Regions from separate parts of the Homo sapiens genome. Here region 1 is linked to region 2. The links come from fine-mapping of genetic effects on gene expression. A gene starts in region 2. The other region holds a variant in brackets. All regions are shown on one strand. Distances are between the middles of the regions. Region 1 overlaps GFPT2 (glutamine-fructose-6-phosphate transaminase 2). Region 2 holds the start of MAPK9 (mitogen-activated protein kinase 9).

Region 1 (15,193 bases), 23 kb after region 2:
GGTTCACGCCATTCTTCTGCCTCAGCCCCCCGAGTAGCTGGGACTACAGGTGCCCACCACCACGCCCGGCTAATTTTTTGTATTTTTAGTAGAGACGGGGTTTCACCATGTTAGCCAGGATGGTCTCGATCTCCTGACCTCATGATCTGCCTGCCTCGACCTCCCAAAGTGCTAGGATGACAGGCATGAGCCACCGTGCCCAGCCTTTTCTTTTTGAGATGAAGTCTCGCTCTTGTCGCCCAGGCTGGAGTACAATGGCACAATCTCGGCTCACTGCAATCTCCGCCTCCTGGGTTCAAGCAATTCTCCTGCCTCAGCCTCCCAAGTAGCTGGGATTACAGGCACCCACTAGCACGCCCAGCTAATTTTTGTATTTTTAGTAGAGATGGGGTTTCACCATGTTGGCCAGGCTGGTCTCGAACTCCTGACCTCAGGCGATCTGCCCACCTCGGCCTCCCAAAGTACTGAGATTACAGGCGTGAGCCACTGCGCCTCACCATCAAGGCCATTCTTTTTTGTTTTTTGAGATGGAGTCTCACTCTGTTGCCCAGGCTGGAGTGCAGTGGCAGAATCTTGGCTCACTGCAACCTCTGCCTCCTGGGTTCAAGTGATTTTCCTGCCTCAGCCTCCCGAGTAGCTGGGATTACAGGCACCTGCCACCACATCCAGCTGCTTTTTGTGTTTTTAGTAGAGATGGGGTTTCACCATGTTGACCAGGATGGTCTCGAACTCCTGACCGCAGGTGATCCGCCCACTTCAGCCTCCCAAAGTGCTGGGATTACAGGCGTGAGCCACCGCGCCCGGCCATCAAGGCCATTCTTAAGGGAAACTGGGTGTGTGCTGGTGAAGGACACAATGACCAGTAGGCCTTCTAGTGTGCTGGGTGCCGGGCACAGCCACCACTGCCTTTGCAAATGTGGACACAGGCAAAAAAAAAAAAAAAAAAAAAAAAAAAAAAAATTTTTAGTATAAAGAATGTATTACTATGTGAACAATTTTGTTCAAAGGGCTTTGCAGACACCCAGGACCTGTGGACCACATCTGGAGAACCACTGACTTAGACGTCAGAATTGGGTCCTGTTTTGCATGGTTATGACCTGGCTTAAAGGAAGAATGCTTTTCTCAGAAATAAACTTTCAGCAAGCTGTCTCGGCCAGTGTCAGGCCCCGAGGGCCTGGAATTGACCATTCTCTATGATGGCCCTTCCCCAACTGCCTGCTCTGGGGTTTGGCCCTGGCTCCCAGGGAAGCTCCAGCGTCCACTCTGTCTCTGGGAGGGCACTCCCCAGAAGCCCCATGATGTCCTGTCCGCAGTGAGCGTTCCATGCCAGCCTGGGGCGAGGCTCGATTCATCTCCGCCTCTCAGGCCTGCACAGAAGTCTCTCTCCTACTCTGGCATGTGAGTGACTGAAGGAGGTGAGCTGCTGCTTATCTTGGCAGGCCAGGGATAGCACATGGGACAGGGCACGGCACTGGTTCTTAATATATGTGGTGGATGAATGAAGAAAGGGGAGGCCACGGTCCCCAAGGAGGTCATGATTTAGTGCAACAGATATTGTATCTCACCAGCTACGACAGCTGCGACTGCTGCTGCCCAGCAAACGGGGAAAGTGTGGTGGGGCTGCCAAGGAGCGCCTGGCATAGGAAGGACCTGGGGCCATTTGCTCTTTCTCGAGTACTTACTGAGCACCTACTGTATGCCTGCCCTGTGCTGGACACCAGCTGTCCAGTGGCAGCTCTGGCAGACAGAGCTGTGTGTTCACGGAGCCGACATGTTAGTTGGGGGAGACAGGCCAGTCAACAGGTGAACAGGGAATTTCAGGTCATGAGGTGTGTTATGAAAAAAATAAACAGGCTAATGTTTCACAGAGTGCTGGCGTCGGGGCCTCTGTGAGCATGGCCAGGGAGGGTCTCAGGAGGTGACATTTGAGCTGAGGTTTGGGAGATGAGAAGCTGTCGGCTGTATGCAGAGCAGGAAGAAGATGGTTCAGCAGAGTAAAGAGCCAGTGCGAAGGCCCTGCGGTGAGAAAGCACTGAGCACTGCTGAGGACCAGGGAGGCAGGGAGGCTGAGGACCAGGGAGGCAGGGAGGTGGGGAGGCTGAGGGGCAGGGAGGCAGGGAGGCGGGGAGGTGGGGAGGCTGAGGGGCAGGGAGGCAGGGAGGCGGGGAGGCTGAGGACCAGGGAGGCAGGGAGGCTGAGGACCAGGGAGGCAGGGAGGCGGGGAGGCTGAGGACCAGGGAGGCAGGGAGGCTGAGGACCAGGGAGGCAGGGAGGCTGAGGACCAGGGAGGCGGGGAGGCAGGGAGGCAGGGAGGCAGGGAGGCAGCGCGGCAGCGCAGGGGGAGGTGGGGGCCGAGCAGGATGAGGTCAGAGGCAGCAAGGCCTCCAGGAGGGAGTTGGGGAAGCTAGGAAGTTTTAGGAGGAAGAAGAAATGAACAACATCCTGTACAGGTGAGAGTCAACAGAGAATGGCCAGCAACAGTCCACTAGATCTGAAAACATGGAAAGCTGAATTCTAGAACATACCAGGTAAAGATCTCAAGCCACGGATGATCTCTTGCCTCCTGTTTTGTAGTGAAATTCGGTCTTCAGACATCATCAAACCAAACATCACCAGAGAGATGAACTGACTGGTATAAGCCTGTGCACAAAGAAGGAGGTGGCAGGGACCTTATTTTCACTTTTTAAATCAACTTTTATTTTTGAGACAGGGTCTACTCTGTTGCTCACGCCTGAGTGCAGTGGCGAGATCACGGCTCACTGCAGCCTCAACCTCCTCAAGTGATTCTCCCACCTCAGCCTCCCGAGTAACTGGGACTACAGGTGCCACCACCCTGCCCAGTTAATTTTTAGGTTTTATTTATCTATTTATTTATTTCTATTTTGTTTTTGAGACAAAGTCTTGCTGTGTCACCCAGGCTGGAGTGCAGTGGCTCGATCTCGGCTCACTGCAACCTCCACCTACCAGGTTCAAGCGATTCTCCTGCCTCAGCCTCCCGAGTAGCTGGGATTACAGGCACCCGCCACCACACCCGACTAATTTTTGTGTTTTTAGTAGAGACGGGGTTTCACCGTGTTAGCCAGGATGGTCTCAAACCCCTGACCTCAGGTGATCCCCCTGCCTCGGCCTCCCAAAGTGCTGGGATTACAGGCCTGAGTCTCCGCACCTGGCCTAAGTTTTATTTTTGAAGGGACGGGGTTGCCCGGGGCGGTCTGGAACTCCTGGGTTCAAGGGATGCTCCCGCCTCAGCCTCCCACAGTGCTGGGATTCCAGGGGGGAGCCCCGTGCCAGCCCTAAAGGACTTTAAAATAAGCATCTCCAAGGTGCTCAAAGAGCCACAGGACAACATGGACGAAACACAGGAACGTGGCATGGGAATAAAATGAGACTAAATGAAGATATGGGGGCCGGGCACGGGGGCTCACGCCTGTAATCCCAGCACTTTGGGAGGCCGAGGCGGGCGGATCACGAGGTCAGGAGATCGAGACCATCCCGGCTAACACGGTGAAACCCCGTCTCTACTAAAAATACAAAAAATGAGCCGGGTGTGGGGCGGGTGCCTGTAGTCCCAGCTACTCGGGAGGCTGAGGCAGGAGAATGGCGTGAACCCGGGAGGCGGAGCTTGCAGTGAGCCGAGATCGCGCCCCTGCACTCCAGCCTGGGCGACAGAGTGAGACTCCGTCTCAAAAAAAATAAATAAATAAAATAAAAATAAAAATAAAAAAAATGAAGATACGGGAATCCAAGAGGGGAGGGGAAAGGAAAGGAGCGGAGAGAAGGGGTGAGGCGGGAAGGGGAAAGAAAGGCGGTGGCGCGGGCAGAGCAGGCCGGAGGAGGGCGGCCTCTGGTGCACCTGCCTCCGCCAGGCTCTCCCTGGGACGGGCGCCCGTGGCTCCTCCTACCTTGGTGCTGGCCACGCCGATCTCCGGCCCTGCGTTGATGTGGACGCCGCAGTCGGTCTCGCGAGAGATGGAGCTGCCCACGGTGTTGGTGACGCCCACGGTGAGAGCGCCGCGGTCCTTACAGTAGCGCAGCGCCAGGAGGGTGTCCGCGGTCTCGCCTGCCGCCCAGGGGCCCTCTCAGTGCCGCGCTCCGCCAGCCTCGGCCCCACCCCAAACCCCTTCCTCCTTCACCGCCGGCTCTTACAGGGAAATCGGCGCCCGAGACACAGCCAGCGGGTGTTCAGAAAGGAAAACGCTCGCTCAACAGCCTTTTCGGTTGATTCTTACATTCAAGGTGTGTTACTATTTGTGGCAAGCATCTTTTCATTTAAATCTCGTGACAACCCCGTGAGGACCATCGTCCCCATTTTCCTCTTGAGGATGAGGGCTCAGAGACAGGAGGAAACCGGTGCTCTGATCAAAGCCATACAGCTGGTGACAGGTGGGCTTGGCTCCCAGCGCCCTCTCTGCAACTGAATAAGCTGCCTTATTCAGAACGTGCTGAGATGGAACAGATTTAACATCTGACAAGCAGGAATGTCCCCAAGTGGTGTTTCTCAGCTAGATCCTGTTTGAAAGGACACTTCTTGCAAGCCTCTCAGTGTGGACTCAAATTGTTTTTAGAATAAAGCTAAACAGCTTCATGCATAAACCAGCACAAGCTCCCTATGTTTGTGAGTCCTAAAGCACTCAAATTAAATTCAGCATAAGCCAGACTATAAAATCAAAACTGTTGAAATCCTCATGAGTCGGGAGGCTGTTCTGTTTGCAGGGCCACTGCTCTTGGCTGTGTCTGTCCCAGCTTTGCAGGGCAGGCAGGTGCCGCCCGGTGCTAGGTGGCCCAATTCTCCTCTGCTTTTCTTTCTTCAGAGCCCTGGGTTATGGCACTGGAGTGTCACGGGGTACTGCGGTGAGGGTGCGGGAAAGGGGGTTCTAACTTCTGTCACCCGCGCCCTAGGGTTCGATAGTGTTTTTTCAATCTCATTAAAGGGCTGACTTCTATACACACAGAGATTCGGAAGCTGCCACTGCATTATTTTCATATTAGCTCCACCTCTGTTCTTTTGTTAATGTCTCCCACCAATTTATAAAATAGTCTGAGGCTCTGGTGGGATCAGAAACCCAAAGGTGAACACGGCAGCAGCTCCTGCGTCATAAGGTGGTGGGCCGGATGGTCGGTGTATCTGTACTGGTTTTTCTTCACTTGTCAACAAAATGGAAATGGTATTTAAAATGGAAAATGGCAGGAGTACTAAAAGTCCTAATAGATGATAGGGCATTACAATCAGTATTTTAGTTGTGGTAGTAACACCGTGGTCATACGTTTTTCTTTTTCTTTTTTTTTTTTTTGAGACGGAGTCTCGCTCTGTCGCCCAGGCTGGAGTGCAGTGGCGCGATCTCAGCTCACTGCAAGCTCCGCCTCCCGGGTTCACGCCATTCTCCTGCCTCAGCCTCCTGAGTAGCCGGGACTACAGGCGCCCGCCACCACGCCCGGCTAATTGTTTTATATTTTTAGTAGAGACGGGGTTTCACTGTGTGAGCCAGGATGGCCTCAATCTCCTGACCTCGTGATCCGCCCACCTCAGCCTCCCAAAGTGCTGGGATTACAGGCGTGAGCCACCGCGCCCGGCCGGTTATATGTTTTTCTTTTGTCATTTTAATCATGCAGCCTGAAGTATTTATATGGATGAATATCATGATGCCCGGGATTGGCTTCAAAGTAACCCCATGGAGACGAGGGGTTAATATGAGTGTGTCCGACCGGCACAAGATGGGCTGGATAAGGCTAGGATATTCATTATATGAAAATTCTACTTTTATAAAGGCTTGGAATTATCCGTAATTAAAACATTTCAAAAATCTTCCACGAGCTCAAGGAGACTCCAAGCCTATGGCCCTGGATCACCTCCCTGAGACAGCTGGAGCAAATGTCAAGCCCAGTGTTGGGATGGCACCAGATGGGGTGCATGTAGCTTGGGAGACCTTCCTTGGCCCTAAAAGGGAGCACTGTCTCCCCCACACCTCCCCCTGCTGGGCAGCATGGGCACTGCATGCCACAGGCAGCTCGGCTTGGACACTTGGGCACAGAGCCCATACTGGGTCCTCCACGTGACTCTCAACCTAACAAAATGTTAAAGGAGATGCTTTTTCTATTAACATAAATCAGCAAACATTTATGAGCACTTCGGTAAGTGGTCCTTGAAGTCTTGGATAGGCAAGAAGAGGGAGAAGCCACGGGGCAGGGGAAAGACTAACGTGCGTGGATTTCCAGCCCAATCCCAGCTGTCACCCCCTGACTGCATGGCCTTAGACATCTCTTGCCCTCCCCGTACAATGGCGACAGTAATCCATGGCTCTACGGGTTAAATGACCGCTGCAAGAGAGGGTTCGCAGCACAGGGTAGCCATGCAGAGGACTTAACTGAATGAAGGAGAAGAGGAGAGAGCCCAGAGCTGACCTGATGCAAGGCTGGCCACAATGCCTGTGTCCCTTACCTGACTGGCTGATGAAAAAGCAAACGTCATCCCTGAACACAGGTGTGTTCCTGTCCAGAAAATCACTAGCAAGTTCAACCATCACAGGAAGCTCAGTCAGTTCCTCCAAAACTTGCCGCGTCTGAAGCCAACAAGCAAGCATGGAGACTAAAGTCAGTCACAGGCACGACAGGGACATGGGGCAGCTGGGCTTCTAGGGACAGTTTGTGACACGGAACCTCACTGTCCAGGTGGCGAGGGGACTTCGGTCACCCACAGGCCACCTCGAAGATAAAAGGGCTCCGTGTCATTTCTCACGCTAGCTCATGGGAATGGGTACAAGGGCTTAGCCAAATTCAGAAGGCCACATGAGTGATAAAACTGAAGGCCAGTGTCTGGTCCTAGACTGCCGTCGACTTCCCCACGCACATGTGTCACACTTACAGCCACGGCAGCGTGGTAGCTGGTTCCACAGCCAATCACGATGAGCCGTCGGCATCGTCGAATCTCCTTCAAGTGGTCCTTCAAGCCACCCAGGAGCACTGCAGGGCACACGACAAGGCGTTAATGCTGAGTCTACACAGTCACCGCATTCCCTGAGACTAGGCTCGGGCGGAGGCTCCCCACCGAGTGTAGGAATTACCTGTGTTGGTTTCAAAATTCACCCGACCTCTCATAGTATTGAAAACTGATTCTGGCTGTTCGAAGATCTCCTTCTGCATAAACGCACTGAAGTTACCTGGTCAAATAAACGTCTGGTCAGTTTTAATTTCATTATATTTCACTGCTTTTCATTATGCAGCAGCGATAGTAACTCCTGTAAAGCTTACTGCAGATTCCCAAAGGCATCCCCAGGGATTACCCTGCCTGACACTCACTACCATCAGAGGGAAGCAGGTCAGGAACCAGGACTATCTCCAATTTACATATTGGACCCTGCAGCTTGAGAAAGGGAGGGATTTGCCCAAGGCATGCAAGTAACAAATGGCCTGGCTGATCCCTCTGGGCCATGCTCCCTTAGCAAGGCCAAAAGAAAGTAAAGTGCTTCACTCCCAAAAAGCCATCCAGCTAGGAAAGTACAGCTAAGCAGGCCCAAAGAAACAGGCAATTTTCCTTCTAATAAATACCCTCCTGGTTTCCGTAATAAAAACCTTTCCAGGCCGGGCGC[A/G]GTGGCTCACGCCTGTAATCCCAGCACTTTGGGAGGCCGAGGCGGGCGGATCACGAAGTCAGGAGATCGAGACCATCCCGGCTAAAACAGTGAAACCCCGTCTCTACTAAAAATACAAAAAATTAGCCGGGCGTAGTGGCGGGCGCCTGTAGTCCCAGCTACTTGGGAGGCTGAGGCAGGAGAATGGCGTGAACCCGGGAGGCGGAGCTTGCAGTGAGCCGAGATCGCGCCACAGCACTCCAGCCTGGGCGACAGAGCAAGACTCCGTCTCAAAAAAAAAAAAAAAAAAACCTTTCCAGCCACACAGGCATTTCCAGGGCTCTGATTTGAGTGGGATTGGATGGTGCTGATGGGACAATGGGGCTGCAGGGTGTTCAAGCCCCTGCACCTGATGCTCTGGAGGTACCCACAGGCAGGGCAGGCCGTGTTCTCTAGGATACGCACACTCATGACACCAACATCGCCCATGCTCCCGGCCTGTCTCCCATGACCTGGCACTTGTGCGACGAGCAAATGAAGCAAGTGAGGGGAATGAGGGGTGGCCACCATAGGGGAGGGGCTGGGGAGGGACCATGGCAGACACAGGAGCAGAGAAGGAGTCTCTGAGGGGGTGACATTTCAAGGGAGCTGGAGGCAATGAAAAGGAACCAGTCCTATGAGAAGAACAGCGAATGCAGGGGCTGTGGCGGGGCACAGTGGGACAGAGGGTTGAGTGTGGTGGGGCCAGGCTTTGGCCCCACTGGGGTGTGGGGTTTGTGGGCTGTGGCAGGGAGTTTGGATTTTATTCTAAGAACAGTAGGAAACCATTGGAGGGCCTTGAGCAGCGGGATGATCACAGGGGCTGATTCATGTTCTTAGACGTTTGCTCAGGCTGCCCTGTGGGGTAGAGGTTGTAAGGGGACAGAAATGGGTGCAGACAGAGAGGCTCTCCTTGTAGGGAGAAAGTGTACCCCCACCCCCCATTTACTGCAGACCTGCAGACTTCCACCCAGAGGAGAAATGATGCCTGAGGGTGGGCATGTGTCCCGCGGAGTCGGTGAAGGAAGGCAGCTGACACACTGGGCTCAGTTCCAGTAGGAAAGACCTGGCGGCTGGCTGCACACAGGAGCCCCCGCTTGGAGGTGCCAGGCCAGCCTCCCCACATCCCCTCACCTGTGCAAGCCACAGGCTACCTGCAGCCCCGCCCTGGTGGCCACAGAGGGCAGGAGGGCTGTGGCCTCTACTAGGACCAGGCAGAGTGTCAGGAGCTCCACCAGGCGCGCTGGCTCCCGAGGCTGCCGCACGTGGACTCTGGAGGACACCTGCCTTTCATGATTTGCTGCAGTTCCATCTGCAAGGTCTGGATGGCTCGAGATGGGTCATCACTGGCCGAGCGCTTGACCCGGTGAATGGAGAGTTTCCCATCAGCCACTGCGGCGATGTCATCGTCCTCCAGGAAGATGACCCGGTTGGTGTGCTCTATGATAGCGCTGGGGCAAGGGAAACAGGCATCATCAGTGCCCTGCCCTGAGCAGTTACGAGGCAGCAGCCCCTTGCTGGTTCCCAAGCGTGGAGGCCACATCGTTGGCATTTTAGGAGGGACAGAGAGACCACACTAAAAACATTGATTTGCAGGTGAATCTTCCTTTTCTTCTCCACTCTTCCCTCCTGTCCCCACGGAATTATTTTGAAGCCAGTCCCAGACATTATATCATTTCTTCTGTAAACACTTTACCATAGAGCTCTAAAACTATTTTAACCTACTATAATACCATAATCATATCTAAAATGAATAGTTGTTCCTTTATATCATCAAATATTCAGCATGTTTACATATCTCCAATAATCTCACGGCTGTCTTTTTATAACCGGTTTCTTCAAATCAGGATCCAAACAATGTCACCTCTGGAAGATACTCGAGAACCAACACATTATTCTGAATCGTGAAGGGAAAGAATAAAGCATTTATCTCGCCTTTCTAAACAATCTGTCTTTCAGAACAACCACATACTTTATGAAGGCAAGTTTCTCTAAGAAGTGATACAGCTAGTAATGAAGAAATAATAGAAGAATCAATTTATGAACTCCTAATTATTAATAGCTCTAATCAAGGACCATTCATGGCTGTTGAAACCAGAAGGTAAAAAGCTGGACGAAGCTTTATCATGGATGGATAAGGCTGGCAACACTCAAACCCCTGATGGCTCTTAGCACAAAAAGAGAGATGGTGAGACATCACCCGCCTCCTGATGGAAGGACACACCACCAACTATGTAGTCTTGCCAAAAAAAATCAAACCTGAATAAGATCGAGCTTTTAACACTTGTAAACTCCAGCGTACAGGAAACACAGGGGACAGAGGAAGATGGTAAATGACACCAGGGGTTGCACTCAGCAAAACCCAGACAATGGGAAACTCATCAGGACAAAAGACCTAGTTTCTTACACACACACACACATACACAAAGGAGCCCTAAAAGTAGTCTACAAGCTATGCTTACCAAAGAAACATAGGGTCATTGTGTTTATTTATTTATTTATTTTGAGACAGAGTCTCGCTCTGTCGCCCAGGCTGGAGTGCAGTGGCGCGATCTCCACTCACTGCAAGCTCTGCCTCCCGGGTTCACGCCATTCTCCTGCCTCAGCCTCCCGAGTAGCTGGGACTACAGGTGCCCGACACCATGCCCGGCTACTTTTTTGTATTTTTAGGAGAGACGGGGTTTCACCGTGTTAGCCAGGATGGTCTCGATCTCCTGACCTCGTGATCCGCCCGCCTCGGCCTCCCAAAGTGCTGGGATTACAGGTGTGAGCCACCGTGCCCAGCCCATTGTGTTTATTTTTATAACTTTCTCTGTATGGAAAAGAATAATGATTTTTTTCCCTTGAGATCATAATACAAAGTATCTTTTAAAATCATTTTAAGTTTGAAAAGTTGCTAAATGAAAAAGAAAGGTGATTAATGGTATATAGTTGTGGTATAAACCATCAGGTTGGGCTTGAAGGACTACTGGAGAAAACACTCTCGGCCGGGAGCCCTGGCTCACACCTGTAATCCTAGCACTTTGGGAGACCAAGGCGGGAAGATCACCTGAGGTCAGGAGTTTGAGACCAGCCTGGCCAACATGGCAAAACCCCGTCTCTACTAAAAATACAAAAATTAGCCAGGTGTGGTGGCGGGCACCTGTAATCCCAGCTACTTGGGAGGCAGGAGAATCACTTGAACCCAGGAGGCGGAGGCTGCAGTGGGCTGAGATTGTGCCACTGCACTCTAACCTGGGTGACAGAGCAAGACTCCGTCTCAAAAAAAACACTCTCATTCTATCAAGAGCCACACCCACACGTGACTGCCTGAAAATGAACACTTAAACTCCTGGTGCAAAGGTAAAGAGAGAAACCATCAAGGTCTAAGGCTCTAAAAGACGTATATCCAGCCAGATCCTAGGGAAGAAAGAGAAAGAAAGATGGCAAGCCACTGTACTGGAAAAAATATTTTAAACAAAACTTTGTATAAAAGTATACAAATAACTTCGTATGCTTTGTATAAAAGTGTACAAATAACTTCGTATGCTTTGTATAAAAGTGTACAAATAACTTCGTATGCTTTGTATAAAAGTGTACAAATAACTTCGTATGCTTTGTATAAAAGTGTACAAATAACTTTGTATGCTTTGTATAAAAGTATACAGAGCTTTATACAAAATTTTGTATAGAAATATATTTTTTTGTATAAAAAGTAGAAACATGGAGTGACAAGAAGTAAAAACGGCCCTATCCTGTCTCCGAGAGATCAACACTGCTTCCATTGTAGCATTAACCAACCAACAATGCATGACGCATGTGTGTTTATATTTATGTGTGCATGTACATGTTTGTTTAAATATAATTATTTTATTTCCAAAATGGGTAGTCATGTAATCTAGTCATTAAAACCAATGGCCCACCAGTTAGGCTTGAGGTGGACTCGGGGCCTCTGTCACTTGCCAGACCTGTGCCCGTGGGCAACATACATAACCCCCTGGAGTTCCTGTCTCAGGTTCCGCCTCTGTAAACAGAAAAGAGCTGTGCCTTCCCCAGAGGTCTGTCATGATTATCGCATGGGATCCTGGTGAGGCTCTCATACCGTGCCCCGCACACACTGGCCACCGTTGCCCAAAAGCTGGACAGTGTGCTCACATCTGGGAGGGCCACCTGCCATTCCTTTCTCAGCATGTGTTGTCTTTCTTATCTCTACACTACACGCGACAGAATCACTTCCTGAAGTTCCAAAGGCATAAACAAATAAAATAATATGGAGGGTTTTGTTTTGTTTTGTTTTGTTTTGTTTTGTTTTGTTTTGAGACGGAGTCTCGCTCTGTTGCCCAGGCTGGAGTGCAGTGGCGCGATCTCGGCTCACTGCAAGCTCCGCCTCCCGGGTTCACGCCATTCTCCTGCCTCAGCCTCCCGAGTAGCTGGGACTACAGGCCTCCGCCACCACGCCCGGCTGATTTTTTTTTTGTATTTTTAGTAGAAACCGGGTTTCACCGTGTTGGCCAGGATGGTCTCGATCTCCTGATCTCATGATCTGTCCGCCTCGGCCTCCCAAAGTGCTGGGATGACAGGCGTGAGCCACCACGCCCGGCCTGGACAGTCTTAATTACAGCACAGAATTCACAGAATAATTTGGGTAGAGTCAATATTTTTTAAAAATAACTTGTAATCATTAAATTAGTTTTAAATGTTGAGTGCATTAATTTTTGAAAATAGCTACTCTGGAAGCTGAGGCAGGAGGATCCCTTGAGTCCAGGAGTTAGTTCGAGGACAGCCTGGGCAACTTAATGAGACCCTGTCTCAAAAAAAAAAAAAGAAAAGAATAGTAAGCCTTCCTACTGAGGAATGTGGAATCTCTTCCTATATTCAAATCTCTTACTTCCTCATGGTAAATTTCTGTAGACTTCTCCAAATATGTTCTAGAGTATTTTTGTTAAAATTTACTCTAAAGCATTTTTTTTTCCAGCTGTGGTGAATAGTATTGCTTTTTTGGTTCACCTAACGTTTGCTGACTGCATCGTGCCTGGTCACGTGAGGTGACACCTGAGAATAAGGTGGACAAGGTCCCACTTGAACCAGATACAGCTTAGTGGCTAAGGCCAGGATATAGGATTTCCACACCTTTACTCCCAGCTGCTAGTACTATCAGTTCTAACAGCCTTTTGGCTGGATTTAAAAATGTGTAATAGTATTGCCTACAAATAATTATTTCCTCTCCTTTCAGGCATTCATGCCTTTTTTTTAAAAAAAAAGAAACATCTGGATGGGCGCGGTGGCTCACACCTGTAATCCCAGCACTTTGGGAGGCTGAGGAGGGCGGATCATGAGGTCAGGAGATGGAGACAATCCTGGCTAACACAGTGAAACCCCATCTCTACTAAAAATACAAAAAATTAGCCGGGCGTGGTGGCGGGCACCTGTAGTCCCAGCTACTCAGAGGCTGAGGCAGGAGAATCACTTGAACCCAGGAGGCGGAGCTTGCAGTGAGCCGAGATCACACCACTGCACTCCAGTCTGGGCGACAGAGTGAGACAAAATAAATAAATAAATAAAAATAAAAAAAGAAACATCTATCATATTTCATTGAATATAAGTTACTATTGATCGTTAAGATCACAATTATTTGACAAACTTCTAAGAAATAAAAGCTTCAACAAATTCTAATGGTACTATGCCAAAATCTACAATTCTCCGTGTTTTAGAATCACTGAAATAATACCAGCGTCTCGTTGGTATTCTCGGCGTGTTCTAAGGGGCACCATTTGGGAAGCGCTGCCTTGACCTCAGCGTTAAGTATGATGCTGGCTGTGCGTTTAATCAGGCCTCGCCTCCCTGTCGCTCCCGTTTCCCAGGAGACCCGGCCTGGTGTCCTCCCTGCCTCACAGCACGGCCCTATTAGAGGCTGGTCGGGAAAGAGAAAACCCATCAAGAATGGAAACATAACAAAGGCCCAAGCCTTTGGGTCTTTGAAGAAGGTACCAGAGGTGATTACAGCAGTTTTCTACTTCAAATGGCAGGAAAGTGCTCTGGTTCTCTCTCTCCCTCTCTCTCTCTCTGTGTGTGTGTGAGTGTGTGTATAACTTTTTTTTTTTCTGAAATGAGTATAAAGCAGAATTTCTCAAATTTCAAAATCATTATTCAGTGGATTGATGAGAGCATGGACTTTAGAATCAATTGAAAAACTCCCTGTGTCTTGGCTCTGTCTTTCACAAATGGTCTCACCCCAGGCAAAGGCAGGGAGGGGCATGGGAGGGACTGAGGTCTAGACACAGTTGTCTCATCTAAAGGGGGCAGCCTTTGAGCAGATCCAGACACCTGCCACCTGAGAGAGGGCTGCACAGCATGCCCCGATCTGCTAGTTCTTCCAGAGAAGCTAGAGATTTCAGATTTCTCTGTGAAATCTCCAAATTTTACAACATTGGCAACTAACCCATTCATTTTGTGCAGGCTCGAAGCACTGTGCCCACCAGTGCATCTGGCCTTTGGCCACCAGGGCTGCCTACCACAGTCATGCAGGTGCTCCTAGGACAAGGACTCCAGGCCCAGGCCCAGGGATGGCTGAACTCTTCTTTGGCCCTGCGACTTGCTGAGCCACGATAGCTCACATGGAAGGATGAATAAGAACCGGCAGTGTTTAGACAGGCATTCTTTGATTATGTAATCCCAGGAAGCGAAGAGAAGAAGGCTCAGTTACCTTGCATCAGAAGCAAAGAAGAATTCCACGGCCTTGTCGCCCACAGCATGCAGGCAGGCGGAGCTGTCCAGCCTCTTCATCCGTGTCTTACAGATATTCTTCACATTCTCCAGAGTGCCTAGCAAATGGAGGAATGGGTTGCAAATCCCACTGGGATGTTTTGTTTGCATAATATGCAGCAAGGAACCAATTTCCCCTCTGAATATGTGTGGGAGAAATTTGCAATTTTTAGCTTTGGCTGTGTCAGCCAAATCGTGTAAAAGATCCCCCAATAGCACAGTACCACTGCAAAAGCATTTAAATGGCTACAGTGTGAGAGGAATGCAAACAAAAACAAACCAAAGAAGCACTCACATCAAAGCCCAGTTGCCGTTATACAATGGCACTTTTGTGTATGTTTGACAATATACAAAATCATGATAAATTCATGTCCATGATAAAAAGCTTAAAAAAAATGGAGCCAAGTCTCAGTTGCACAAAAACCTTTTAGACCTGGAGCTGTGCGCCTGTTGGGTCTGGCTCAGAGTGGGGTTTCCTTGCCTCAGAGGGGAGCTGACTGTGCCAGAGCAGCTGCCGAGTCCTGCGACACCAGCAGCTGTGCTGTTCCGGTACTTCTTGAGAAACTTACACGTCCTGTATAAGATAGGGATCTGTTCTGTGGAGAGCTTGTATTTGCTCCGGACTCCGATGAGCAGGGGGCTGCCTCTCCTGTAGGGAGAAAGAGGCATCCCATTACCCATTGCCTTTGACGCCCAGTGCTGGGTGTCTGCCCAGCATCTGAGGTAGGATCCCCAAATCTAGCCCTTTCCCAGTGGTGGAGGATCCTGTTTAGGTCCCACAGGACGGACGCCTGGAGCACAGGATGGAAAGGCCAGCTCCTGAGTCCCAGGTCCCTGACTTGGCATCACCC
Region 2 (15,193 bases):
CAGGGCCATCCTCTGTAGTTCTTAAGCCACAGTATATACCACAATACAGAACAACTAGCATTTGGTTATCACTTCACCCACTGTTGGATCCATAGGACCCTGCAAGGATCTCCGTCACCAGCCCCACTTCCAGGCACCCAGGCCTGCCTATTTCCCTCTCAATCCCCCACTCCCAGGGCCCTGGGTAAGGGCTTCTCGTGGCTCCTTGGACCAGCGACAGCAGAAGCATTCTCCCAGCCACCATTTCTGTGACTTCCGAACCACTGCACACATGCCACTTTAGAAAGAGAAATCACTCCACGTGAGAATATGTACACAAATGTTCACAGCAGCTTTATTTTTAATAGTGCCAAACTAGAAACAACCCAAACCTGTCCTTCAATGGGTAAATGGTTAAACTAACTGCTGTATACCCATACCATGGAATACCACTCAGCAACTGCTGAAACATACCACAACTTGGGTGGATCTCAGGGGCAGGATAGTCAACGAAAAAAGCCAATCTCAAAAAGTCACATCCTGTATAACTCCATGCATATAACATTCCTGAAAAGACAAAAGTATAGAGATGCAGACTAGATTAGTACTTGCCAGCAGTTATGAATGGTGGGGAAAAGGGGCTGCTGTGGCTGTAAGGGGGTGGGACAAGGAGATATCTGGGATGATGACATAGTTTTGAATCTTGATTGTGGTAGTGGTTATAGGAATTTTCACACGATAAAAAATGACAATGAACTCTATACACCTTGCTCCGATGCCCAATGTCCTGGTTTAGACATTTTACTACAGTTGTGTAAATATGTAACCGTGGGAGAAAGCTGGGGGAAGGGTACTGGGACCTCTCTGTGCCATTTGTGCAACTTCCTGTGAATCTATAATTATTTCAAAATATGGAAAGAAAAAAGAGAGATTTGTTGAAAGTGTGCAGTGATCACACCATTCTCCCATTTGAACTCCTTCAACAGTGACTGACTGCCTGGAGAATAAGATTCAGTTCCCTAGCACAGCACAGGAGATGGCAGTCCTCTGGCCCAATCTTAGGCAACATCAAACCACCTGGGATCAGCGGACACACCCAGCTACTGCACACCTTCAGGCCTCTGCCTAAGCTGTTCCATCTGCTTGAAATGACTTCCCTCCCCTTTTTGACCTGCTGGTCAACATTCACCCTCCTTCAAAAATCTAGTTCAAGCACTTGCTTCTCTTACATGTTTCCTCCTCCAGCCTTTCCCTTCAAACCATGCTGGGCATGCCCCCATTTTTGCCACCCTCCCAGTATTCGCTTTAGATTGCATTCCGAGTCTACTTACACTTCTACTCTGTAAGGGCAGAAAATGTGTCTGATTTATTTCTCAATCCTCTACTGATTACACAGTGGGTGCCCAAAAAATGTTTGTTAAAGACAAAGCTAAATGGGAGAAAAAATGCGGTAGGGCAGCTGGGAGCAGTGGTTAAGATCGGGACTTTGACTTCAGACTCCCAGTGGGTCTGCTATTTATCTGGGTGATGTGCAGCAAGCGATTGCACTCATCTGCAACACGGACGAGCAGAGAGCCTCAGGGTACCTCTAGATAAGAAGTGCACAGCCCACTTAGGAAGGCATCTTGATGCAGGAATGCACCCTAAATCTGACGAAGCCTCGTCTAGATCCAATTACTAACTTACAGAGATTACAGAGAAACACATTCAATTACACTGCAGAGATGCAATCAATCAAATACCAACTATGGAAATGCTAAGGAACAACTCGATTGCTTCAACAAATAAACTACCAAGAAAACAAAGAAATAGGAGGGGGATCTATGGATTAAGAGAAACTTAAAAGACGTATCATCCAATCAACAACGTATGGCCTTCTCTTGCTCTACTTTCAAACTATTAAGGAAACCTAAAATTCATGGGGCAGCTGGAAATTTGAATATTGACTAGTTATTTGATGATATTAAGCAATTATTACTTTTTCAACTTTAAAAGAGTCAGTACCTTTAGAGACCTACCGAAGTGTGAAGTATAACTACTGTACACCTCCTGAGCACCCTGAGGTTGTGCCCGTATGTTTTACAGATGAGTGCAATCGCTTCTGCACATCACCCAGATAAGCAGCAGACCCACTGGGAGTCTGACTCAAAGTCCTGATCTTACCCACTGCTCCGAGCTACCCTACCACATTTATTCTCCCATTTAGCTTTGTCTTTACCAAACATTTACTGGGCACCCACTGTGTAATTAGTATCCCAAAAAATAATGAATGAAATGACATGATATTTAGGATTTGCTTGAAAATAATTATGGGTGGTAAGGGTGCAAGTGGATACCATTAGAGATGAAACAAGATTGGTCAGGAGTTAATAACTGTTAAAGCAGGACACTATTCTGTTTATTTTGTATATGTTTGAAAGTTCCCATAATAAAAGTTAAAATAAAAAGAATGATGTTGAAACTGGTTCATACAATCAAGTACAAAGTATCAGGAATTAATTATTCTGAAGGAAAATTATGTAAAAATGGCACCTTCCTAACCAAGTGTGAGGTGTAACTACTGTATGTATGTAGACCAAAAATAGTTGCCCTATTGGCAAATCAATAGTCTCAAGAAGAAAAAAAATCTGGTCTCTGTTTTATCTTATGCCTCATGAAAACAACTGGTTTACTCGCTATTAACTGGTTTGTCTGGTCCTTTTCTTTATCCAGAAAATTAAGAATATTTTATCTTAGACACATTCAAGTATCCCCTCTGTTGTTTATTTACGGGACCAAATAAACAGATTTTAATCTGTGAACAAATTAAAGTCCTGGCACCCTGAAAATTAAATTGCCAGGAAAATCAAAGCTGTCAAAAGAGAAGTCTATGCAAAAATAGTATTGTTTTTAACTCTGCAGGATCCTTTTGAAGAAAAAAAAAAGTTAAATGGAGGAAAACATTAAATAGATTGGTGGTCATTCTTCCAGAACAAGTTAAAAGCCAAAAGAGAATACTCAGAGCTGAGGGACCCAGGAAAGAATCCTTATCTGGGAAGTGATCTGGGTTCGAACTCCACTCACCAGCTGCTTGCTAAGAAACAGACTACTTAGACTCCTGAGCTTCCGTTTCCACAGGGCTCCAGTTACAATCAAATGAGTATCTGGGCTGGCACCTGGGCAAACAGGGCCTGGCTCCCCTGGCCTTAGGCTACCTTTCCTGCTCTCCTCACAGCTCCTCCCTCCCACACAGCCAGTCCTGGAGGATGACGATCCTGCAACCAAGCTGAATGAATCTGTATTTGGCTTGGCTCACAGCATTAAAAAAAAATTTAATTAGCTATTGCCAACATTTAAAAATCAGAACAAATGTGGAGTGCTGCCTTCCTTTTTAGAGACAGGGTCTTGCTCTGTCACCCAGGCTGGAGCACAGTGGTGTGATCATAGCTCACTGCAGGCTCCAAATCCTGGGCTCATGGGATCCTTCCACCTCAGCCTCCCAAGCAGCTAGGACTACAGGTGGATGCCACCACACCTAGCTAATTTCTTAAAATTTTTTGTAGAGACAGATCTCGCTACGTTGCCCAGGCTGGTCTTGAACTCCTGGCCTGAAGTGATCCTCCCACATCAGCCTCCCAAAGTGTCTTGAAATTACTGGCGTGAGCCATGGCACCCAGCCAAATTCCACCTTCTTCTAGAAAACTGCTGGGTAAGGTTCCTGTTCTTTAGGGTCCCCACGACTCTGTGTCCTTACACCTGGCCCTCCAGACTGATTCTCAACTCCACAGTGGCCTACGGTCCTTCCTTGGCCCTGCTCCTTCACACCTCTGTGCCTCTCCCTGCCTAGCAAATTTCTTATCACCCTCAAGGCCCCCCAGCACCACCTGTCACCTCCTCCACATTTCCATGGCATAGCCCCTCCCCTATAGCAAGGGTTGTACAGTCCTGGAACTAAGTGTCTGCATGCCTGCCTTCTCTACTGGGCTCCTGGGCTCTCTCGGGAAAGGGACCCCGTTGCTATCTGCCTTGTGTCCGTAGGGTCTAGCAGAAAGCATGACCTAGATAATGCAGAATTCAGTAAATGTCTCTTGTATGTGTGGAAGAAAGCTACAGCTAAACTATTATAAAAATGTGAGATTTTATATCACAGCTTGTTCCAACAGTTAGCAATTAAAGGGGTCAAGGACACCAAAATGTTTCACAAAATAGAACAAGCTTCCATCTGCTTACAAGTTTCACACGCTAATCAGAAGTCACTAAATGAACAGATAAAGCAGAGACAACAGGCAGGCTGGGCCATTTCTTTGATCATTCATTCATTCATTGAGCTGATACTACTGAATACTTCCTGTGTGCTTTCTAAGCACTGGGGATAAAGCAGTGGACAAATCAGACAGCTACCTGTTTTCACAAAGTTACATCCTAGTCGGGGAGACAGAAAATAAGCAGGCAAATAAATAGAATAGTTTCAAACCAGATGAGAGCTAGGAAGGAAATTTTTTAAATAATGAAATAGCATGACTAAGGGAAGAAAGAGGGTGGTCGAGGAGGGCCTCACCCAAAACGAGACATCTGACCAGAGGAAGGAGCAGAAAGAGCTACTTGTGCCAAGATCACGGAGACAACTCCAAAGACGGGGAAACAGCAAATGCAAAGGTCCTGGGGCAAATGCGGGCTGGCATGTTCAAGGCGGGCGAGATGAGTGGGACGGGGCAGCAGTCTTCTGGGGGAGGGGCGCGGTGGTAAGGGATTCGGGCTGGGTCCCCTCTGGCACTGCTGGACACCGAGTGTGCAATGACAAGGCAAGAGAGGAGTGCGCGGGGAGGCGGGAGGCTGGGCGGGTGGGGAGGGGGTTCCTACACCACTCACACCAGCACGGGCCAGCACCCTGCCCAGTCTTCCACAGATGCACACCGGGGTCCTGCCCAGGCGTCTGCATACATTCACACAGCCTGACAACAACCCTGTCCAGAAGAGACATTTCCCCACCTTCCCGAAGGCAAAACCGCGGCAGAGCGAGGGTCAGTGCCTTGGCCAAGGTCGCGGGGACGCGACCCCGGGCCCCTGGGCACCCGGCGCAGGAGTGCAGCTGTCTGCCCCACCTCCGGGAGGGATGGCGCCCGCAGACCCCACGGGCAGGTCGGCCGGGCCAGGCCGGTGAGCAGGCCCGCAGCCCGGGGCTGCTGACAGCCGGGCGGAAGGGGGCGCCTGCGGCATCCCCCAGCACAGGGGCGACGGCTGCGGCTGCCAGGGCCCCGCAGCCCCCGGCCCGCCCCGAAGCCCCCGGCCGCGCGGTTCCCTCACCGCCCCTCCCCGCGGGCCCGGCCCGAGCAGCCGCCGCCAGGCCTAGCCCGCCCGCCGGGCTCACCTCGCCTCCCCGCCGCCGCGCCACGGGGAGAGGGCGGGCGGGCGGACTGGCGGCGCTGCGTGCTAGTCACTCCTGGCTCCGCGGCCCCGGCTCCGCCGCCGGCCCGCCCCGCTCCGCTCCGCCCCGCCGCCGCCGCCGCCGCCGCCGCCGCAGTGGGTGTGAGGGGCGCCGGGGCGCTGCGACCCTTCCGGTCCCGCTCCCTTCTCCGCCGCTGCCGCCGCCGCGGCGCCCGGTCTGACAGACCCTCGCGCCGACCAATCAGCGCGCGGAGAGCGGAGCAGGCGCGGCCAATGGCGCCTGGGGGGCGGGCCGATGGAGGGTGGCGCGGGCGGGGTCGGGGGCCGGGTCGGGCGCCCGAGGTCCTGGGCCGGGGTTCCGCGGGTTCTTCGCCCCCGGGCCTTTCAGTGGCGCGGGCCGAGTGGCCATGGCGCTCGGGTGCGCGCAGTGCACGCGGTGAGCTGGAGACGCAGGCATTGCGCGGCCCACCGGCTGAGCCCGCTCTCCCTGCGAGGGGGGCGCAGCTCGGTGGAGAGGGTGGCCCGGAGGACCGGGAACCGGGCTGGAGGCGCGCGGGGCTCACACCGCGGGGTCCGCGGGGAGCCGGGCCTCGGGCTGCAGGTGCAGGCTTGTGGCGGTGAGGCGACTGGAGCGGCACGGGAGCCCGCCCGTTTCGGGGAGAGCCCGGGGCGATCGCGGGGGGAGGCCGGCCTGGCGTCCGGGAGCCCGGCGTGCTAGGGCCCGGTAGGCGGGGCGGGCCTCGCACTCGGTTGCTCGCTGCGGCGCCGGAGGAACGGGTCTATGGGGGTGTGGGTGAGGCCAGAAGCCGGGTCGAAGAGGGGGAGGGGGTGCGAAGAGATGGCGGTGTGTAGACAGGTGACCCGGTGGGTCGGTGACGCAGGAGGAGACTGCGCTTGGTGGCGGGATCACTTAGTTGACAACATCTAAAAATTAGGAGGTGCGGCAGGGCGCGGTGGCTCACGCCTGTAATCCTAGAACTTTGGGAGGTCGTGGCGGGTGGACTACCTGAGGTGAGGAGTTCGAGACCAGCCTGGCTAACCTGGTGAAACCCCGTCTCTATTAAAAATACGAAGCAATGAGCTGGGCGTGGTGGCGGGCGCCTGTAATCCCAGCTACTCGGGAGGCTGAGGCAGGAGAATCACTTAAACCTGGGAGGCGGAGGTTGCAGTGAGCCGGGATTGCGCCATTGCACTCCAGCCTGGGTGACAGAGTGAGACTCTCTCAAAAAAAAAAAAAAAAAAAAAAAAAAAAAAAAAAAAAAAAAGGGAGGTGCTCAGTCAAGCCTCTGAGAGGAGTGGGGGGCGGGGCGAGGAGTCTCTTGCTCAGAGCCCCCTAGGGACTGGGACCCGTTGACTCTGAGCTGCTTTTGAGGCTGGATCAGGTACCAGCGGCCTGGGGGTCGTACAGGATGGGAGAGGCCGGGGCTTGGGATGTTGCCAGATCTACGTTGAAAAGTGAAGCAGGAAGAGAGGCACTGAGGCTGGGCACATGGGGAAAACCGTGGAGAGCCGGCCTTTGGGGACTAGAAGAGTGGGAACAATGGTTGACAAATGGTGAGTGTGGTGTAGAACAGCAGTAACACAATACCAGGATCCACAGAGTGGCCAGGGCCAGAGTGGGGAGAAGGAACAGGACTCTGCAGATGGGGAGGGTAAGGGGCTGGGTGGCGTGAAGGGTGGTTGCAGAATTTGGGGAGGGCAGCTAGCCTGTGACCCAGGTTCCAAGGGCACTGAGGTCTGGGCCAGGCCGCTTGGAGGCACCAGAGCCTCAGAGGAGGGGTGGGGTAGAGGAACGGATCCAGCATGGTGTCCCCCTTGGCCACCAGAGGGAGTTTTCTAAATTTGAGCATGGCTCATCGCTGCTTGAAATTCTACGTCACAGTGTGGCCTGCATTGAGGAGGGCCCACACCTGTCGCTACCTCAGACTCACCTGCCACCTGCCTCAAGTGCATGAGAGAGAACAGGAAACCAGAAATTGTCAGGATCGAGGATTATGGGAAAAGAGTAAAAGCCTAGCTGTCAGATCTGAGGTTCCACCAAGGAGCACTGATGGGTGCTTCTCATTAGGAAGGCGGTGCGGTGGCTCACACCTGTAATCCCAGTACTTTGGGACGCCGAGGTGAGTGGATCACCTGAGGCCAGGAGTTCGAGACCAGCCTGGCCAACATGGTGAAACGTCATCTCTATTAGAAATACAAACATTAGCTGGGCGTGGTGATGGGTGCTTGTAATTCCAGCTATTCAGGAAACCAAGGCAGGAGAATAACTTGAATCCACGAGGCAGAGGTTGCAGTGAGCCGAGATTGCTCCACTGCACTCCAGCCTGGGCAACAGAGCAAAAACTGCATCTCAAAAAAATAAAAACAAAAAAACAGAGGGGACACCAGTTCCCAGCACTCCAGGCCTAACTTCATAGCACTCACATCATGTCAAGTGAGTAACCAAAAATCAGTGTACATATGTACACAGCTATACATATCTCACACTAAGTTTTCTGTAAGAGTTCTTTTTATTGCAGAGACACTGCTTTTTTTCTGGTTTATGAAATACAGTGAACATTTATGGACACAAAGCTGAGGTGACAGGGTGGGGAGGGGGGCCTTGGAACAGCACCAAGAATCCTGGTTGAACCCTCCAAGTGAAAAGATCCTGCCACGACATACGTGAACCAGGTGTGACACGTGAGCACGTCTCACCTGATCCGGCCTATGGTGGGGAGAAGCAATTGAGGAAGGCCTTCTGGGCAGGAGGAAGTTGTTGCTGAGGCTGCCGAGCAGGATGTGTTGGGCCTGTGACTTAGGCAGAAAGGGCGCTCAGGCCCACATGCTCAGATGTGAGGACCTGCTTGCTGTGTTCAGGGAGCCACAAGTCACCTGGTCTTAGGGAAAGGTGAGGGGACTGGAGAGTTCTGAGGACCTTGAGGTAGATTGGCACTGCCAGGCATGTAGGCTGGCTTTAGCTCACTGATACGCCTTGTTCAGCCCAGAGAGGTTTTCTTTTTTTAATTGATTAGTTGATTTAAGAAACATTTAGATTTGGGATGAGCTGTTTTGGATGTTTATCCTCAATGAAACTCATGTTCAAACTTAATCTCCAATGTGGCAGTACTGAGAGGTGGGGCCTCTAAGCGTGGTTGGGATTAACCTGTCGATGGATTCATGGATTAAAGGGTTATCACCGGAGTGGGACTGGTGACTTCATTAGAAGAGGAAGGAAGACCTGAGCTGGCCTGTGAATATGCTCCGCCCCCTGGCCATGTGACACCTGCGCCACCCTCAGGACTCTGCAGAGTCCCCAGCAGCAAGAAGGCCCTCACCAGGTGCAGCCCCTCAACCTTGGACTTCTCAGCCCCCAGGGCTGTAACAAATAAATTCTTTTTTAAAGTAAATTACCCAGTTTCAGGTATTCTGTTATAAGCAACAGAATAAGAAACAGACTAAGACAAGAGCACAGCGGGGTGGAGGAGCTAGGGGTGCCTGGGGCATTGGGGACCTGTCCGGAGGCCAGCTGTGTATGCAGCCACAGTGCCAACGGGTTTCTGTGATCCTGATATCCCCCACCCTTGACTGGCCTGGATTCCAATCCGACTCTTGTCAGCTGTGCTCCTCTGGGCAAGGGATTCACTTCTGTCTGCCTTGGTTCTGTAGGAAGTGGCATGGAGAAGGACAGAAGCAGGAAGAGCTGGGTGCGGCCCATGCAGCAGGGATGGTGTAGGTCCTTATGCTGACTGCCTCTGTCCCCTCAACACTTTGCCTGCCCTCCCCCCATTGCACTAACCCACATCTTCCCTTCTCCCCTACAAGGACCCAGAGATGTGCTAGAGGGTGTAAGTCGGGGCTGTCCCAGCTGTGTGTTGTAGAAAACTAAACTGCACTTAAACCAATGGGGACGTTTACTGGGAGGTGCCTGTAACATCATACCCAGGGGAGGTAGGGGCAGAGCTGGTCTGGAAACTCTAGGGCCATGGAGGCCACTGCAGGCCCAAATGGAGTTTGAAAACCCACAACAATGGACTCTGATGGTCCCCCAGACAGGGCTTCCATTCTGGAACTAGTCAGCCATGCTGGGCAGACAGGCTCATGTGAGGACATGGCAGGGAAGGGCAGAATTGGGAAAGGCAGAAGTCTGGAAGTTTCTTCCATGGTGATGATTAGAATGAGGGCATCTGAGCTGGGGCGCAGCTGAGGGTGTGGCACTGTATGGAAACAGGGTTATTTGGGGGCTGTATAACTGAATGCTGAACCCAGTGGCCCTTAGCCCTCCTCCTCCGGGAATCCCCCAGAGCACCAGCAGCTGGGACTGTCCTCAGGCAGGGAGCCAGCAAGCTGTTCTCCAGAAGTCTGACCAGCCCTGAAGGGAAGACCTGAGGTATGAACATTATGACACCCCCACCCCCACCAGATTTCCCAGCAGTGAATCCTGCATCAACCAGCCCTACCATGCCTTAGACCTTCCAGTCAGCCCCCCTTGAATCTGAACAGACAGCTCCATGTCATATGGCTAAGAAAAGTAAGACAAAAAACTGCATCTTGAAAGAAACAGACTCTGTGGAGAAGGAAAATTCAAAAAATAAAAATAAAACTACTGCTAGCTTCAGAGAGAATGAAAAAATATTGCATCCTTCAAACAAGAACCAGCCATTTAAAAATTATGCAGCACAGGTGTATGCAACATGGCCTTGCTCTGTCAGCTGAGATGGCCTAGAAGCAATGACATCTCAGCAGTGGCTGACACACCCAGAGCCCAGATCTTGTTCTCTAATGTCATTCGCCATAAAAGGAACCAGGGATCCCTGGAGAAATGGTTGATTCTAGGGCTGGGACAGGGGATGGACAAGACGAGCCTGGAGAATATTGTTGTGCAGGTAAGGAAGTACTTACAACACACACACACACACACACACACACACAAGGAAGTACAACACACACGTAAGAAAGTACACACACGGAAGTACTTACCCCCCCCCCCACACACACACGGAAGTACTTACCACACACACACACACACACACACACAAGGAAGTACAACACACACGTAAGGAAGTACACACACGGAAGTACCCCCCCACACACACACACGGAAGTACTTACCACACACACACACACACACACACACACAGATGGGGCTATGTCAAAGAGACACAAGAGCCAACTGAAAGAGCCCCCAGTGGCTGTTGCTGGAACCATTGGAACAACAAACTAACATAGTATTGGGCATGACTCAAAATATAAAATAAATATCTATGGTTCATTCTAATAGAAATAATAAATGGGGAAGAATAGAAAAGTTTGTGGCCGGGCACAGTGGCTCGCACCTGTAATCCCAGCACTTTCGGAGGGCGAGGTGGGCGGATCACGAGGTCAGGAGATCGAGGCCATCCTGGCTAACACGGTGAAACCCCATCTCTACTAAAAATACCAAAAAAAATTAGCCGGGTGTGGTGGCGGGCACCTATAGTCCCAGCTACTCAGGAGGCTGAGGCAGGAGAATGGTGTGAACCCGGGAGGTGGAGCTTGCAGTGAGCCGAGATCACGCCACTGCATTCCAGCCTGGTGACGAAGTGAGACTCTATCTCAAAAAAAAAAAAAAAAAAATATATATATATATATATATAGTCAGAGCAAAAAAAAACCCTCGAAAAATTAAATCATGTTGGCAGAAATGAAAAATCTTAGTAGCAGGTTGGGAGATAAAATTGAAATCTCTCAGTAGGGCAAAAAGACAACAAATGAATGATAAAAAAGATAAGAAATTAGAGGCCAGTCCAGCAGCTTCACCCTGGGAATAATAGACACTCCAGAGACAGAGAAACAGAGAAATCCACAACAAAATAATTCAAGAAAATTTCCTAGTCTGAAAGGCAAAAGTTACCAGATGCAATCAACCCTAAATGAAATGTGCTCTAGGCAACTTGTGGTATTTCAGAACACAGGAAACAAAAAAGAGACCAAAAGGTCACCTACAAAGACATCAGACTTTGGACTCAATAGCAGCACTGGGAACAAGACGATGAAGCACTACCTTTAAAATTCTGCAGGAACACCTTTTTCTGACCTAGAATTGTGTGTTTAGCTAAACCCTCTATCAAGTATAAATAAAAAAATCATTTCCACACCTGCAGATTCTCAAAAAACTTGCCTTCTGTTGTGGCCTGAATATTTGTGTTTCCCCAAATTCATATGTTGCAATCCTAACCCCTGCCACATGTGATGTTATTAGGAGGTGAGGCCTTTGGGAGGTGATGAGTGTGAGGGTGGAGCCCTTATGAATGGGATTAGTACACTTATCAAAGAGGCTCCAGAGAACTCCCTTGTCCCTTCTGCCATGTGAGGACACAGCAAGAAGGCTGCTCTGTACAAACCAGGAAATGGGCCCTCACCAAGACTCCACATCTGCCGGTGCCTTGATCTTGGACTTCCCACTGTTGAGAACTGTGAGAAAGAAATGTGGGATTTTTATAAGGCACCAGGGCTGTTACAGCAGGCTGAACTGACTTAAGACACCTCTCAAGCACCTTTTCTCAAGAATGGGCTTCACCAGAACAAAAAAGGAAACTCAGAAGAAGGAAGACACAGATACAGAAAACAGGAGCCCAGGCCGGTATGGCAGCTCACGCCTGTAATCCCAGCGCTTTGGGAGGCCGAGGCAGGTGGATCACGAGGTCAAGAGATCGAGACCATCCTGGCCAACATGGTGAAACCTTGTCTCTACTAAAAATACAAAAATTAGCTGGGTGTGGTGGCGCACGCCTAGAGTCCCAGCTACTTGGGTGGCTGAGGCAGGAGAATTGCTTGAACTCGGGAGGCAGAGGTAGCAGTCAGCTGAGATCACGCCACTGCACTCCAGCCTAGCAACAGAGCAAAACTCTGTCAAAAAACAAGCAAACAAACAAAAAAACAAAAACAGGAACCCAACACAGAAGACATGGCCTGGGAGGCCCATGGAGGGTGGCGAGAAGTGACCCTGAGGTGATGGCTCTGCACCAGACGTGGAGAGCGACTGAGCCATACTGAGCAGCGTGACCCACGGGGTGAACTGTCTTCACCAAGACCCCACCTCCATCAGGCCATCTGTAGCCCGGGGACAAAATGCCCAGGAGAGCCTGGCCTAGGTTCTTGGCGGTACTTGGCTTGGCCATGTGCCGACGAGGGGCGCTCCCCTCCTCTGCTGAGGACGCACAACATTCACAGAAGTTTCCAGCTTTCCCCCCACCGAGAGCTGGAGGCAGGCCGTGGCGAGCTTAGAAGCAGGACGTACAGGTCAGCCCCCTCCCTCTGACTATTTCCACTGCAGGTCCAGCGCGTGGTCCCCACCTTGGCCCTACCAGGTGCCTGACTGTGCTGAGCCCAAGACTTCCTCGAGACCTTCCTCATGACTTCCCCAGGAGGGGCCTTGTCAGTTCCCAGAGAAGCAGGGGTCAGACCACGACCTGGAGACTGATCTGCTCACCTCCTGGAACCTCCGTCTAGTGGAGGCAGTGCCGCCCTCTCCTTGCACCGCCAGCATGCACTCACCCTCCACTTTCGAACTAGGCAGTGTATTTGGGGGATAGATACACAGGTGAAACTATAAAGAAAAGCAAGGGAACAATTGGCACAAAAGTCAGAATGGCCGTCGCCTCTTGGGCATAAGGATGAAATACACTTTCTAGGTCTTGTCCAGAGAAAAATGTTCTGGCTAGTTTGTAGTCTCCTAATCTTGGAAGTTGTATTGGTCATGGATTGATTAGTAGGACAGAAACTATTCTAGCCATTTCCCTGGGACTGACCCAGGGCCTGGAGGACAGAAGTCAGGAAAAGCCCCTGTGGCACCTGGTTGCTGCCAGCTCTCCAGAGTTGGGATTTTAGAGGAGCCACAGGCGACCTCTGTTCATGGTCACCACTGCCTGGCATGCTGAGGTGGGTGCGTTTTGGGGAGCCCCTGAGGGCCACAGCAGAACCCCGTTTGCTGAAGCAACATTTCTATCTGCTTCTGCCAGAGATAAATACAAAATATGATTTCTGCCACTCAACTATCTTCCAAGTCTCCCATGAATGCCTCTCACTGGTGGATAACCTAGAAATGTAGCTCCCAGCTTTCCAGCCCCTGTGATACAGGTGAGGGCATAGGACAGAATGGTGGATAACTGGAAATGTAGCTCCCAGGTTTCCAGCCCCTGTGATACAGGTGAGGGCATAGGACAGGATGGTGGATAACTGGAAATGTAGCTCCCAGGTTTCCAGCCCCTGTGATACAGGTGAGGGCATAGGACAGGATGGTGGATAACTGGAAATGTAGCTCCCAGGTTTCCAGCCCATGATACAGGTGAGGGCATAGGACAGGATGGAAATTTGCTGAGTAGCCCATAGGTAATCCTGGACAGGGTTTATGAGATACTAGGGCTACACACACCCGTTGTCATGAAGACATCATTCAGGTTGTGTGTGACAGCACTTACGTAGGAAGCCTAAGTTCTGACTTCACAAAACTTCAGAACTCTCTGGCTTTCAATCTTTCCATCTGATTGTATTAATGAAACCAGGGACTATAATAGCCTTATTGGGAAAAAAATACAAATTTGAGAGTTTCACCCCTCTATGCTGTCTACAGGTTCTGCCCAACCCCTTCCAGGTTCAGTGGCCCCTCTGCTGAGTCCCAAATCTCTTGGATTTGTTGTATCCTGGACAACAGCCCTCCTTTTCCTACTAGAAACCCATAGGTCTCAGGTGTGGACGAGGCCAATGTTACTAACAAACAGGGCTGCCCCTCCAAACACTGCCGAGCTCCTGCACAGTCCTCAAAATTCAAAGTACACAAAAAGAATGAGGTTAACAAAATGCAAACACACACAAAAAAACTGTATGTTCTTTATTGTCCTAAAATTGCATAGTACTTTTGATTGTGCACGCTTTTAAATAGAGAGCAGAGTTGCCCACTTGAAACTACTCTCTTGCATGGGATATTTCAAGCTGTTTTACTATGGGCAAGGAGCAGGGACCAAAATGCTGCCAGGGCTTAAAAAGAGCCGTGATCAGATTAAACAGAAGTTGGAGAAGTGGAGGGATGTGGGCCACACACGAGAAGAAAATGTTGAAGGAGGCTGAGATTTCAACTGGACTTATAGGAGGCATAGGTGGATGCAGGAGGGGCTCCACGGATGTCAGAGAACAGGATTCAGGAGCAGCCTAGAGAGGAAAGAAAAGGAGAAAGGAGTCCAGAGGGCCAATGCCTTGTGCTCACATCTGAGATGAATGCCACCTGCCAGGAGCAAGCCTGGACACAGAGCATGGGTAGCTAGGATGAACAGTTTGGCCGTTACCACGGCTACAGAAAGCCACATACTAGAAAAATAACTTAAAAGCTATACAGTCGTCATTATAAATATCTTGTCTTTTAAAACTAACTCTAGTGTTGGTTATAAAAGGTTCACAGTTACTCTGAAGAGAGCTGTATCTCTATTGCACAGTAGTGGAGAAGTCTGCTCTGATCCCCATGTGTAAACAATGATTCCCTTCTCCTCTGGCGACTTCAGGACACAGAGAAACAGTATCTGCTGTAAGCAAAAGCACTTGGGTAGAAGGCACGTGGAAGCTGTCAAGCTCTACAGGAGCACGCAGAACATGTGGGATGTCCACTTCTCTTCCCATGTAGCATCCCTGCTGTTGGGACAGGTCTGGAATCAGATGAAAGGTGGTGATGGTCTTGTCACGGTCTCAGCCTCATTCCACAGTTACAGACTTGGCCAGATTTCTGGGGAAGTCAACCTAAAATGAAAGAAAGTGACTGTTCAGGACCCCAAAGATCTCAGCAACATGCTACCTCTCACAGACAATTTTCAGAGTACTTAAAAACAAGAGACAGATGTTCACC

Evidence for each region. PIP is the estimated chance that this variant, and not a neighbour inherited with it, causes the effect.
Region 1: its variant is fine-mapped to the expression of MAPK9 in whole blood (INTERVAL, PIP 0.91).

What each region holds. Positions count from the first base shown.
Region 1 is chr5:180,309,905-180,325,097 of GRCh38, forward strand. It overlaps GFPT2 (glutamine-fructose-6-phosphate transaminase 2), which reads right to left. Exons shown (of 19, transcript NM_005110.4): 8 at 14,912-14,991; 9 at 14,284-14,401; 10 at 8,889-9,052; 11 at 7,059-7,154; 12 at 6,860-6,957; 13 at 6,437-6,557; 14 at 3,903-4,060; 15 at 2,526-2,640. Among named protein-coding and RNA genes, the nearest start is that of MAPK9, 25 kb to the left of the region's middle. RefSeq lists enhancers at 3,845-4,139, 13,225-13,910. The variant A/G (reference allele first, on the strand shown) is at 7,584.
Region 2 is chr5:180,286,522-180,301,714 of GRCh38, forward strand. It overlaps MAPK9 (mitogen-activated protein kinase 9), which reads right to left and starts at 5,562. Exons shown (of 12, transcript NM_002752.5): 1 at 5,327-5,562. It overlaps LOC124901151 (a long non-coding RNA gene), which reads left to right and starts at 5,711. Exons shown (of 2, transcript XR_007059085.1): 1 at 5,711-5,779; 2 at 8,450-8,732. GFPT2 (glutamine-fructose-6-phosphate transaminase 2) reads right to left here. Exons shown (of 19, transcript NM_005110.4): 19 at 14,177-15,087. The coding sequence ends at 15,043. RefSeq lists silencers at 5,078-5,267, 5,398-5,767, 5,778-6,117 and enhancers at 6,040-6,682, 12,524-13,024.